Regions from separate parts of the Homo sapiens genome. Here region 2 is linked to region 1. The links come from fine-mapping of genetic effects on gene expression. A gene starts in region 1. The other region holds a variant in brackets. All regions are shown on one strand. Distances are between the middles of the regions.

Evidence for each region. PIP is the estimated chance that this variant, and not a neighbour inherited with it, causes the effect. A credible set is the group of variants that fine-mapping cannot tell apart.
Region 2: its variant is the best candidate, but not a certain one, in a credible set for the expression of RAPGEFL1 in whole blood (TOPMed, PIP 0.59).

Annotation. Positions count from the first base shown.
Region 1 is chr17:40,175,653-40,178,667 of GRCh38, reverse strand. It overlaps RAPGEFL1 (Rap guanine nucleotide exchange factor like 1), which reads right to left and starts at 1,198. Exons shown (of 15, transcript NM_016339.6): 1 at 287-1,198. The coding sequence starts at 806. RefSeq lists enhancers at 1-69, 70-926, 1,318-1,818, 1,819-2,319 and a silencer at 1,157-1,286.
Region 2 is chr17:40,124,464-40,126,963 of GRCh38, reverse strand. It overlaps MSL1 (MSL complex subunit 1), which reads right to left. Exons shown (of 9, transcript NM_001365919.1): 2 at 558-781. Among named protein-coding and RNA genes, the nearest start is that of MSL1, 3.7 kb to the right of the region's middle. The variant C/T (reference allele first, on the strand shown) is at 1,510.

The DNA of each region.
Region 1 (3,015 bases):
GAGTCAGTGGCTCCAATGCCCAGGGGAAAGGAAGGGTGGCTGAAGGAGAGTAAGAGGCTCAGCTGCTTCTCCAGACGAGGGTGAGGCTGCTGTAGGGAGGAAGGTGAGTACTGCTCTCCTCTTCCGCGGGAGGGTCTGTACCTCCGCTAGGCCCCTAGCCGGCTTCCGCGGACCACTCAACCCTATAACCAAGCCCCGGCACGGCGCCACCCCTACGCTCCAAGGGCAAGGAAGAGGAGCCGGGGCCAGCCCCTGCTCTGGGTGTTCGAGCCCACCGGCTCCTTACCTGAGGCGGCGCTGTCCCTGGTAGCCCCTCCAGCAAGCCGCTCCAGAACCCGGTTCAGAAGATGCTCGGGCCGCTCGGGGGCGCCCAGAGGGGCCCAGGGCGGCGAAGTCAAGGGCTCGCCTGGGGACAGCTCGTCAGATGAGTAGGAGGAAGGGGAGCGCAGGGGCCCCCCTCCCCCGAGAGGCCCGGGCCCCGGCACCTCCTCCAGCTGCAGCCAGCAGGGCCCCCCGCTGCCCGGCTCCTCCGCGACCCCCGCCGGCTCTCCTCCTTCCTCCTCAGGGGGCGGCTCCAGCCCCGGCTCGGCGGGGGGCTCCCGGAGGAAAGCGGGGAGCAGCAGGCGAGACACGCTCTGACGCCGCTGCAACGACCGCTGTCCCCCGGCTGGACCGCCGCCCCCGCCGGGTCCCCCACCCCCTCCAGGCCCACCGCAGCTCCCCAGACCCCCGCCGGGACCTCCCGCCACCGTTCGGCCCGCCAGCTGCGACGTCTGCTTCTTCAGAAATTTCTCCAGCGGCTTCATGCCCCCCCCCGCCCCTCTCCTAGGGGTCGCCGGGGGACCCAGGTATCCCAGGCGCGGGCGGGGGGGGCGGCGAAGACACGATGCTCAGAGCTGGAGGAGCAGAGTAGAGGGCCGTGCCAGGCGCCAGACTGGGGGCCAGAGGGGCCGAGCCTCGCTGGCCAGAGTCCAGTGGCCAGTAGCCGGGGGAGGTGCCAGAGGAAAGGAGTGCTCGCTCTCAGCAACCCCCCATGCCGGCTGCAGCCGGCACGCGGCCCGAAGAGTGGGCAGGCTGCGGGGCCGGTGCGCCCGGCTCTGCGCTGCGGCGGCAGAGGCAGCGGGCGGAGCGCAAGGCTGAGAGGACGCGGCGGCGGCGGCGGCGGCGGCTGCGCTCCTGGCCGTGAAGAGGGGGAAGGTGGCAGAACCGAGACCGCGCCCCCTCCTCCAGTCCCCGCCCAGTCCCCGCCCCTACCCTTCCTCGGCTCGCCCCCGCGCCGCACGAGGCTTGAACTCGCGCGCTGGGGTTGACCGCGAGGGAAACAGTAAGGGACTTGGGTTCTAAGCAGAAGAAATTAAGGGCAAAGGTAAGTCAGAGATTTACCAATGGGGAAGGATTCCTGGCTCAAGGGATAACCGGGTCTCAGCATCATTTCAAAGAGTCAGGACAGGTCTGTGGCCTGGACACCTTCACTCACCTACCTGTGTACCCAAGTCAGGCCTACAGATTGCTGAACCCAAGAGTGTGCACCTTTCTCATACTCACAGAAATATGTGGAGTTTATCTTCCTTCTGTGAGAAGAGCTGGGAAGGCCTCTTGGGTGAATTAGCATTGCCACTGGAGGCGGTGCCCATCTGTCCTCTCTGGTAGGGCACAATAGGTGGTGTGGGCCTGGTCTGTGGGCAGGTACTGGCAGGCAGGTAGGAGCCAGGCAGGGAGCAGCAGGTTGTGGCAGGTCTAGCTGGGGTGAGGAGGGGATAATAGGCAGTGGGGAGGAGACCAGGAGCACAAGGGCACCTGAGCCCAGCTGGCAGCAGAAGGAAGCAGGGCCATGGAGACAGGTGACAAGCCCCAGAACTGCCGACTATCATCAAGCACAGAGCCCAAGTGTACATGGCCATGGAGTGGGAAAAGTGGTGCCAATTAGCACTCCAAGTAATCCTTACTCCTGATGCCCACACCAGGAGCATTCTGTCCTTAAGGATATGCTGCCCCAGAAGGAGTGTGGGGGAGGAGGGGGGTGCATCGTAAAGCCATGCTAAGTGTGAGAACATCCAGGTTAGACTTACAAGGTGTGGGAGTGGCAGCAGGTTCTCGATGGGTTGAGGCTCTCTGGACAATGCCCCACCCCTGTTTACCGAGCACCAACCAGGCAGAGACAGGAATGCTAATGGCTGGGAGTGGTAGTAAAACTGAACAGGGTGTGTATGACATACGTATCAATGTATGTGCATATCTGTTCCCATGTGTGCTAGAGCATGTGTTCACAGAAATAAAGCTTTGCACACCCATCTGTTTGTGGATTTGGAAACAGTAAAAAGAAGACAGCGCACAATTTTGGCTAAGAAGCTGTATTAGAGGTCTGAGTATCAGCTTCCTGTGCTCCCCTTATTGGACACTCCAATATCCCCTGGCTTGAAAGGGGAAAGTGGCTGGAATGGGTTGGAGCTCCCCAGGTAGCATTTTATGAACTGAATAGGAAGAGGGAAGGGCTTCTCTCCCAGCACATGCCACAGTTACCAGATTAAGCCGGTTGCCTTGGTAACCTTCTCTCTGGGCAGGATTTGGGAATTGTTGGTTAGGAAGGGCGAATTGGGGAGTGTGAAGGGTGTAGGGGGTTGAAAATAAAACAGACTGAGAGACTTCTGGAAGCTAGAAGCTTGGGACACAGGACCCCAGTACTCCCCCAAATGCTCAAGGATGTCAGGCAGAGACTAAGTTCAACATTTTGAATCAGTGAGGAGAGCCAGCATCAAGTCATGGTCCTCCTGGAGTGGCAGTGGTTTTCACCCTGACTACACACTGGAATCACAGGGAAGCTTCTCAGAAATACTGATGCTGGCTGGGCTTGGTGGCTCACGCCTGTAATCTCAACACTTTGGGAAGCCAAGGCGGGCAGATCACTTGAGGTCATGAGTTCAAGACCAGCCTGACCAACATGGTGAAACCCCACTTCTAAAAATACAAAAAAAATTAGCCGGGCATGGTGGCACACACCTGTAATCCAAGCTACTT
Region 2 (2,500 bases), 51 kb after region 1:
ACTCAGCTGTCATACTTATTGCCCATTCTCTTTATGATGTAAGCTGCATTCAATAATTATTACTGTGACCAAAATACTCCTAAACAGACTTTTACAGTCTGCATAAGAATGTTTCAAGATAGTTTCTCAGCATAGAAGACTTCTTTTTTTTTTTTTTTTGACGGAGTCTCGCTCTGTTGCCAGGCTGGAGTGCAGTGGAGCAATCCCGGCTCACTGCAACCTCCGCCTCCCGGGTTCAAGTGATTCTCCTGCCTCAGCCTCCCGAGTAGCTGGGACTACAGGCGCCCGCCATCACGCCCGGCTAATTTTTTATATTTTTAGTAGAGACGGGGTTTCAAAATGTTGGCCAGGATGGTCTCTATCTCTTGACCTCATGATCCACCCGCCTTGGCCTCCCAAAGTGCTGGGATTACAGGTGTGAGCCACCACACCCGGCCCTCCGCATAGAAGACTTCTAAAGCAAGTTATGATTGCTATAAAACCAATTCATAAATCCCAATCTCCTACTCTCAATCACTGGTAACAAGGGTCCTCATCAAACAAAGTTATCAGCACACCTTTTATGTCCCTTTCCACTCCGCCCACATGAGAAGGGCTTGGGAGGCAGAGTCTGGGATGTCTCGGAAAGCTCCGGCTGGCACTCCAGTTTAATTTTCTCAGATAGCTCTGTTTCCTCTCTCTCTTCAGTTTCATAGCCCTGAAACAGCTTGTGCCTTTCTTTCTCGTTATCCTTCTTTACCAGCTGCATCCGCCTTTCCATACGTTCAATCCGAGCAAGGAGCTAAAAGAGAGAGTAGCAAAATGCAGACTTAACACATAAAAAATTAAACACACAGATACTTAGCCCCATTTAGGAATCAGTATAGTCTTCTGCCTCTTTCTATGGACCACATCAACTCAACTTTTTAAATAGGCAGACATTAATCTGAACAGTTTTCCTTAAACAAAATAGAGAAGAGAAGGTATACTGTTAAATTTTAAGGGCTAACCTAGATGGGAAGAGGCATGGGGTAATTTGTAGTTCATTCTTCTGTAGGGAGATCCTCTCCACTGGGAAGGGCCGTAACATGCCTTTTAATGGCATGGTCTCTGCTACTGCTACCTGTGTGGCTCCAAGTTGGTTCGGGAGTTTCCAGAATTAATTGTATACATGTTTTGTTTGTTTGTTTTTGTTTTTGTTTTGAGACGGAGTTTTGCTCTTGTTGCCCAGGCTGGATTGCAATGGCTCACTGCAACCTCCGCCTCCCTGCCTCAGCCTCCCGAGTAGCTGGTATTTCAGGCGCCCGCCACCACACCGGGTAATTTTTGTATTTTTAGTAGAGACAGGGTTTCACCATGTTGGCCAGGATGGTCTCTATCTCTTGACCTCGTGGTCCACCTGCGTAGGCCTCCCAAAGTGCTGGGATTACAGGCGTGAGCCACCGCGCCCAGCCTACATGATCTTTTAAGAGGCCCTGAGATTGTCCAAATTCTATCCTCTCTACTTCTACTCCAAAGCTCTATACACAA[C/T]AGCAAAGTGCAAACAGTACATTGAGAAGGAATTAAGAGCTCATACAGTGCCACCAGGAATGGCAGTGTTATTTGAAAGGGGTATGTGTGGGAGGGGGTACTTTTAAAACAATGAACATTTCATTTGGAAAATAGAAATCAGTACCCATAATTCCAACAATCATGACATAAACACATTCCTTTGAATTTGAGGTAACACAAAAAATTATACCTATTCATCTAAATATTTATTAAAATCAAAGTTCCTTTAGTTTTAGTTAAAAGGAAGGACTAAAAAACTAAACAGAAAATGGAACTCTATTAGTATTGAAAACTTTGTGTTAGTTTAGTTTTGAGAAAAGGTGTTGTGCTACTTATACTCTATTACAAGAATTTTATCTGGGTTAGACAGTGATGTTTAACGCTGCCTTCATTACATTCATTGCATAGATTTCAGACAAGGCCAAACAACAACTGGAATAAGTGAAACAAGCTTAAGCAATATTAAGATTGCAATACACAACAGAAGCAGTGAGTACCAAGTTCAGACTGACACTCTATCCTTAACTCACCCCACTTTTCCTGACTAGGAAAGCCTGCAAAGGGGCCATTACCTCAGGAACTGAGCAGAAACCTCCACAATCAGCAGAGAACCCCCCTATCAGCCATACTCTCATTTCATCTCCTTGTATATGTTTTGATTCACAGCCCTTAACCACCATTTGTGGGTGACATTTCCTTGATTTTTTTCTCCTTCACTGGTCCTTCTCTTCCCACTCCCCCCATACAAGGATATGATGTGTTGTAATTACGGTACCATCACACCCCTAGACTGCAGTACAGTCTGAGCAGTGCCACCTCCATGTTGAGTAACTTCCACAAATCAACACCATGAGATATTTTAATGAGACCTGCCCCAGCTCCCAATCCACCTTGCAGAATGCATTCTCCAATAAAACAGCCACCCGATGAGATTCATTTGGAAAGCAAACAAAATGAATAGCCGCTTGCT